Linked DNA regions of Homo sapiens. The protein of the gene in region 1 interacts with the protein of each later gene in a biochemical or structural test. Each region holds a gene or a part of one and is shown on either strand. Other genes may lie near its edges. The genes, in order: POLL and UBE2H.

Region 1 (3,755 bases):
CCTGTGTCTCCTCCCCAAAAGGCAAAAGAGGCACCAAACACCCAAGCCCAGGTCAGGAGCCTCCCATCCCTCAGAACTCCCTTCCCCTAGGAAGCAGATCACAGAAATGGGGTGGGCCTGGTGGCTGTTCAGAAAGTCCCAGGCCCCTGAGAGAGGAGGGCTCTATTGTGAAGCCATTTAGCTCTTCCCAACACTCATCACTGCTGCATTTATCTAGGCCATATCTAACACATACCACTGGGGATCCTAGGGCTAGGCACTGCGTGGAGCCAAAGGGAACGTGGCCTCACACCCAAGGAGATCCAAGTCTGATGCAGAAGGCCCCGCCTCATTCTTAGGTCTGACTAGAAGACCCTCCCCCCGCACAAAGAAGATGACCCCCACCTTTAAGGATCCCTTCTCTTGGAGAACAAGAATTTATTGTTTTCTTTTCTTCTCTATCCCAAGCCCATCTCTGATGATGAAGCCAGTGATGGGGAAGAAACCCAGGTTAGTGCAGCTGATCTGGAAGCCCTCATCAGTGGCCACTACCCCACCTCCCTTGAGGGAGATTGTGAGCCTAGCCCAGCCCCTGCTGTCCTGGATAAGTGGGTCTGTGCACAGCCCTCAAGCCAGAAGGCGACCAATCACAACCTCCATATCACAGAGAAGCTGGAAGTTCTGGCCAAAGCCTACAGTGTTCAGGGAGACAAGTGGAGGGCCCTGGGCTATGCCAAGGCCATCAATGCCCTCAAGAGCTTCCATAAGCCTGTCACCTCGTACCAGGTACCCAGGGGCTAGAGTGGGAGGAGGGGTCTTTACTGGCCAGTGGTTAGTAACCCCAGTGGGGTTCAGGTACAGTGGTGAAGATTTTATGGGGTCTAGGACTTGCACAAAAGAAAAAAAAGGAAAATTGATGAAAGCAGATTGGCAAAATCTTGATAGTTGTTGAAGCTGGGAGATGTACGATACTTGGGGGTTATATGGATCTCTCTACTTTTGAATTTTTTAACATAATTAAAAGTTTTTTATTTTTAATTTTGTTTATTTATTTATTTATTCATTTATTTAGCAGAGATGGTGTTTTGCCGTGTTACCCAGGCTGGTCTTGAACTCCTGGGCTCAAGCAATCTACCCTCGGCTCAGCCCTGCAAAGTGCTGGGATTACAGCCATGAGCCCTTGTGTCCCGCCTAAAAAGTTGTTTAAAAGAAGTTTGGACTCTGAAGCCTAACAGACCAGGGTTTGAACTCTGGTTCCTGTCATTCACTAACTGTGTGACTCCAGACAAGTTACTTAAACTCTCAAAGCATCAGTTTTCTCATTAGTAAAAAGGGGCTACTATTAAATGAAATGGTCCCTGTAGCACAGGACCTGACATAGAGTAAGCCCTCAGTAAATGTTAGCTCTTGCTGTTGGAATGATGATGATGGTGGTGGTGGTGGTGGTGACTAATATCATCATTATTTTCTACTTCTTACTGCTGGTCTCCATCCTTCTGGGAACCAAAAGACAAATTACCCAGCCCTCATTCTATCCAAAATTCTCATCTTCAACTACACCCAAGCTTTACACAGCCACACAGTTGCCAAGCAGCCAGGCTGGCTTTTATGTCAGCATCTGCTAGAGGAGTCAGCTTCCTTTCCACTGGCTCTACCTCTTCCATCTCCTCACTCTTCTTTCTTGCCTCTGCCTCCTCCTCCTCTAGGAGGCCTGCAGTATCCCTGGGATTGGGAAGCGGATGGCTGAGAAAATCATAGAGATCCTGGAGAGCGGGCATTTGCGGAAGCTGGACCATATCAGTGAGAGCGTGCCTGTCTTGGAGCTCTTCTCCAACATCTGGGGAGCTGGGACCAAGACTGCCCAGATGTGGTACCAACAGGTCACACCCTGGCTCAGCCCCTACTTCAGTTTTGCTGTGTCTCAGAGTTCCTGCCCCAGATGTGTGCTGTGCTCTGCCCCAGATCCCTATGCTGTGCTCTGATGGGAATGCACCCACAGTATAGGGAGACCATTTTTCAAGCGGACCAGGACTCATATAGACCCCTCAGCTCCCAGAACAGCCTTGTTGCTTGGTATCCTTAAGAAGGAGTAGACAGGGACAAGAAGTATGTTTCTCAGTCTCCCCAGACCAGCAAGGGCCTTCCTGAGGAGGCCAGGCCTTGACACTGCGTGTCTAGAGCAGTGGTTCCCAATCCTGGCTCTGCCCACAATCACCAGGGCAGCTTGGTAAGGATGAAGATGACAAGGTCCATCCTCAGACTGATGGAATCATGAACGAGCATCTTAGGATAGTGGCAGGGCTGGATGATGGCATGTTTCCCATGCTCCCTGCCTTTCCCAAGTCCTGCTGAGTACAGACCCAACTGCCCCTAGGTTGGTCCTGCCTCTAGCCTTCCCTAGAGTCTGGGGCGATGGAAGCCTTGTGTGTGTGCTCACTCATGCCTCTTCATTGGTCCTGGATCCTTACAGCTTCCCATCTGGCTGCTTTTTTCCAGGGCTTCCGAAGTCTGGAAGACATCCGCAGCCAGGCCTCCCTGACAACCCAGCAGGCCATCGGCCTGAAGCATTACAGTGACTTCCTGGAACGTATGCCCAGGGAGGAGGCTACAGAGATTGAGCAGACAGTAAGCAGGTGTCCCAGAGCAGTGAGGACAGCCAGGTCCTGCTGTAAGGTCTTGGGTCAAAGCCAAGAACCCCCAACTCCTCAGCTGGGGAGGACAGCAGGCAGAGGAAACTGTGGATCACCAGAGGTTGAGCACAGAGCAAGTTAAGACTGAAGCTCCAGGCCCAGAGGTGGGGGTGGGGAGCTTTGGGAGGAAAGAGCTGTAACACCAGCCCTCTAGATTCTGGTTCTCAGTAGTCAGGCCTATTAGGATTGGATTCAATTCTAGACTGATTGGTGTTAGGATTGGGTTAATGTTAGGGTTAGATTACAGGTGAATTATATCTGTACTGAGGTTAGGGTGGGTCAGGGCAGAGGGTTTTAATATTTTATTTTATCTTTTTTTTTTATTTCACCAACTTCTTTGAGAACCTGATGAAAACTGTGGACTGTTTTCTCCCCAAAATGCACAAATGTGCAAAGGTTTATGTCTTTTTCCAGATGTATGGACCTTCTAAAGCCCACGCAAGGCTGGCTCAGGATTTGGGGTAGAGTTGGTGTAAAAGCACAGTGTCAGTAGGATTTGGTTTGGGGCTGGAAGAAAGCTCCATCAAGATGGAGTTAAGACCAGGCACAGTGGCTTATGCCTTTAATCCCAGCACATTGGGAGAACAGGGTGGACAGATCATCTGAGCTCAGGAGCTCGAGACCAGCCTGGCCAACGTGGTGAAACCCTGTCTCTATAAAACATACAAAAATTTCCAGCCTGGCAAACATGGCGAAACCCCGTCTCTACTAAAAATACAAAAAAGTTAGGCGGGTGCCGTGGCTCATGCCTATAATCCCAGTTTCTTGGGAGGCTGAGGTGGGAGATTTGCTTGAACCTGGGAGGCGGAGGTTGCAGCGAGCCAAGATTGTGCCACTGCACTCTAGCCTGGGCAACAGAGCAAGACTCTGTCTGAAAAAAAAAAAAAGATTGAGTTAAAGTTAGGCTTTAATTAGGCGTAGGATTTTCTTAATGTTGGTTGCTTTTAAGTTAAGATTTGTAGTTGTCCAAGAAATAAGATTTGGGTTTGGTTTAGAGTTGGGTTAGCGATTAGGTTCATGTAAAAGCTAGATTAGAGAGACACTGGACTGCATTTAGGGCTAGATGTATCATTTGTTCAATGGGCA
Region 2 (3,817 bases), on another chromosome or scaffold:
CTAAGCAAGTTTTTGGAAAAACTCCACAGGTAATTGTGATGGACAAGCAGGACCTAGACTTAGCCCAGAACCACTGCTCTAGACTAAGTGATGCTACTTTTGATGATAAGTTGTTTATGATTTGGGAGTCTCACTCCATTGCCCAGGCTGGAGTGCAGTGGTACAATCTCAGCTCACTACAACCTCTGCCTCCCAGGTTCAAGCAATTCTCCTGCCTCAGCCTCCCAAGTAGCTGGGATTACAGGTGCCCACCACCACGCCTGGCTAATTTTTTGTATTTTTAGTAGAGACAGGGTTTTGCCACGTTGGCCAGGCTGGTGTGAAACTCCTGACCTCAGGCAGTCCACCTGCCTCGGCCTCCCAAAGTGCTAGGATTACAGGCATGAGCCACTGTGCCCAGCCTGTTTTTAAATAGTAAATATGAATATAAATTATATGCCTAAACTGAGATATGAGTGTTATAATTTTAACATTAATGTAAGATCAGACTGAAGAGTCAGTGCTAATGAACCACATTTTGGTTCTAATTGAGTCTAAGGCAAAAGTAAGAGCTGTTTGCTCATCATAAACCATATACTCAGGAATCTTGGGACTTCCTTTAAAAGTTAAGACAGGCGGAAATGGGGTCGGCTGACTGTACTCTACAGGTTTAGGTCAACTGTATCTGGCTCTCTTCCTTTAAAAAAATTGAAGGTTAATGTTTTTAGATAAAGATCTTTGAACTGACACATTTTTATCGTTATTATTATCGACACATTTTTATCGTTTTATCATTAACAAAAATCTAGGGAAAAAGTGTTCTTTATTTTTCTACAGATGAGTATCTTTATTTTATTCTTGATTTATAGTTTTAGTCTTCTCTGCCAGTGTATTTATCTTGAAAGAAGACTTTCTGCACATCTGCACATTTGAGAGATGCTCCTTTCAGAAGCACCCTTAGGAGTAATCACTGTGTTAGCCACTTGCAGGAAGGCCTTATTGCTTTAAGATGGCAGAGCCATCACATCCTGGCCTCCCGAAGTTGTCATCTTCACCCAAAACTGGGCCTCATGTGTTTCCTTTTCTGCTCTTCTGTTTTACAGGTGTGACTCAGCACTTCTGTAAAATGGATCAAAAATGTGTTAATGCAGGAAGACGGTAGATACAGGAAGGAAGAACCAATAATTAAGGGTTCTTTTATTTGTTTGGAACAAATTCATAGGCAAAGCCTTTTATTGGTAGCTTGAGGAAACTTAAAAGTAGTAGGAAAGGGTATAAAATCTCTTTCTGGGACACGCTAAACTCCTAGTTTTATAACACGTTGTCTGTGATATTTCTCTAGCCCTGAAGCACTTCTGAACATTACTTCAGAACATAAAACCTATGCTTTGTTTTTAAAGGTTTTCGTTGTTATGTAATAGCATCCAGCTGCTAATCCTTTTGAGCAGCACCTGTAATAATAATATGGCAGGAGGAGCCTTCCGTTCGCTGTGTGCAGGTGTCTGCGGGTTACCTCCTGCGGTGGAGCTGCATGAAAACAAGCACACCGTCTCTGTGAATAGCCACAGAAACATCTGAACGTCCTTTGCTTAGCATGCTTCTTTGCACTTGTGAGGGATTCTTTGGGGAGGAGGGTGATCATCTCTGATCCATGGATTTAGCTTCCCTGCCAGCGATGGTATGCGATTTTGACCCAGAGACATGGGGAGCTTGTGCCTTCGTGAAATTTGCGGCAGCGGCAGTGTGTGTTTTATCCATTAACAGAGGCAGCATAGTGGATGAGCTCAGGTTTGAGTTCCTGATCCATACTTAAGCTCTGTGTGCCTCAATTTCTCCATCTGTAAAATGGTGCCTACCTCATTGACTGTAGTGAAATTAAGAGTGTATATGCAGACCATGGAAGAGTTCCTTGCTTGTAGTAAGCACTATGTAAGCATTAACCTGCCATTACTGTTAATATTACTGTTAATGGGCCGGGCGCAGTGGCTCACTCCTGTAATTCCAGCACTTTGGGAGGCCGAGGCGGGCAGATCACGAGGTCAGGAGATCGAGACCATCCTGGCTAACACGGTGAAACCCCTTCTCTGCTAAAAATACAAAAAAATTAGCTGGATGTGGCGGCGTGTGCCTGTAGTCCTAGCTGCTGGGGAGACTGAGGCAGGAGAATGGCGTGAACCCAGGAGGCGGAGCTTGCAGTGAGTGGAGATCACACTACTGCACCCCAGCCTGGTTGACAGCAAGACTCTGTCTCAAAAAAAAAAAAAAAAAAAAATTACTGTTAATGTAACTATTGTTTAACTTTTCCCTGCTATGGGATCACATTCAATTGTAAAACTACTGTTTTTTGTTTTTATTTTTGTTTTTTTGAGATAGAGTTTTGCTCTTGTTGCACAGGCTGCGGTGCAATGGCGCAGTCTGGGCTCACTGCAAACTCCACCTCCTGGGTTCAAGCAATTCTCCTGCCTCAGCCTCCCAAGTAGCTGGGATTACAGGCACCTGCCACCACACCCAGCTAATTTTTGTATTTTTAGTAGAAACGGGATTTCACCGTGTTGGCCAAGCTGGTCTCAAACTCCTGACCTCAGGTGATCTGCCCATCTCAGCCTCCCAAAGTGTTGGGATTACAGTTGTAAGCCACTGCGTCTGGCCTGTAAAACTGAATTTGCTTACCTTTTGGCATTTTCTACCACTGCCTTAATAACTCACCCACCCAAGGATAAAGATAAGAAAATAAAAACATTTTCAGACTTTTCATGTTTTATTGGATATTTCAAACATATGCCAAAATAGAAAGGACATATTTACAGGAAAATGTTATTTTTATTTTATTTATTTATTTGAGACAGGGTTCCACTCACTTGCCCAGGCTGGAGTACTGTGGTGCAATCTTGGCTCACTGCAACCTCCACCTCCCCAGGTTCAAGCAATTCTGCCTCAGCCTCCCAAGTAGCTGGGACTACAGGCACGCGCCATCACACCCAGCTAATTTTTTGTATTTTTTAGTAGGGACAGGGTTTTGCCATGTTGGCCAGGCTGGTCTCGAACTCCTGGCCTTATGTGATCCACCCACCTTGGCCTACCAAAGTGCTGGGATTACAGGTGTGAGCCAAAAATGTTGATTTTTAAAGGCAAAAGAAATGTCATTTGAAATGTGAAAAGTAGAAGTTACACATCTATTGCCTTGAGGTAGCTTTTTAAAATGTTTGTCTTATGCATACACACTGTACATAGTTGTAATTCTAGAAAACATACCATTTTATGGCCTTTCTCTACCCAGCATTCAAGTATAAGCATTTTTTTCATTGAAAACAAATAGTTTTCAATGGTTTTGTACCATAATAATTGTTTCCCTTTTTAAAAAAATTGTAGATAAAACATTGGTGAAAATCTTACTGCAGATAGTTTGGGGGTTATATAGGAAGGTGATTTTTGTTTTGCTTTTTTGATTAGGAGTGTCAGGATTTCTTTCGTGGTACATGAGAACCTTACTATAAAGTGGCTCTTTAGGACCGTTCTGAAGTCAGCCTTATGAAGGTGAAATAGACTCTGATGAAATCACCCCAAGTCTGTGGCTTTTGTTGTAAGGCAGAGCTGCTCTGTGTCAATACCTGGTGTGTGAGAACAGGACGTGGTAGCTGTCATGGGACCCTCTAGCCCATCATTCTCTAGACCTGCACTGTCCAATACAGGATCTACTAGCCATGTGTGGTTATTTAAATTTAATTAGAATTAAATAAACTGAAAATTAATTTCCTTATTCACACTGGCCATATTTTGAGTGCTCAGTAGCCACTTATGGCTAGTGGCTATTGGTTTAGGTGAGCACATATAAAACATT

The links.
Region 2: of the proteins of POLL (region 1) and UBE2H, one has a biochemical effect on the other in vitro, tested with the Homo sapiens proteins (one study listed by BioGRID).

The regions. Positions count from the first base shown.
Region 1 is NC_000010.11:101,581,612-101,585,366, reverse strand, and holds part of POLL (DNA polymerase lambda), read left to right. Parts: coding exon 1-51; intron 52-447; coding exon 448-765; coding exon of another isoform or gene 766-931; exon of another isoform or gene 932-1,017; intron 1,018-1,685; coding exon 1,686-1,859; intron 1,860-2,475; coding exon 2,476-2,604; intron 2,605-3,755.
Region 2 is NC_000007.14:129,841,432-129,845,248, reverse strand, and holds part of UBE2H (ubiquitin-conjugating enzyme E2 H), read left to right. Parts: intron 1-3,817. UniProt on the Homo sapiens protein: Accepts ubiquitin from the E1 complex and catalyzes its covalent attachment to other proteins. E2 ubiquitin conjugating enzyme that transfers ubiquitin to MAEA, a core component of the CTLH E3 ubiquitin-protein ligase complex.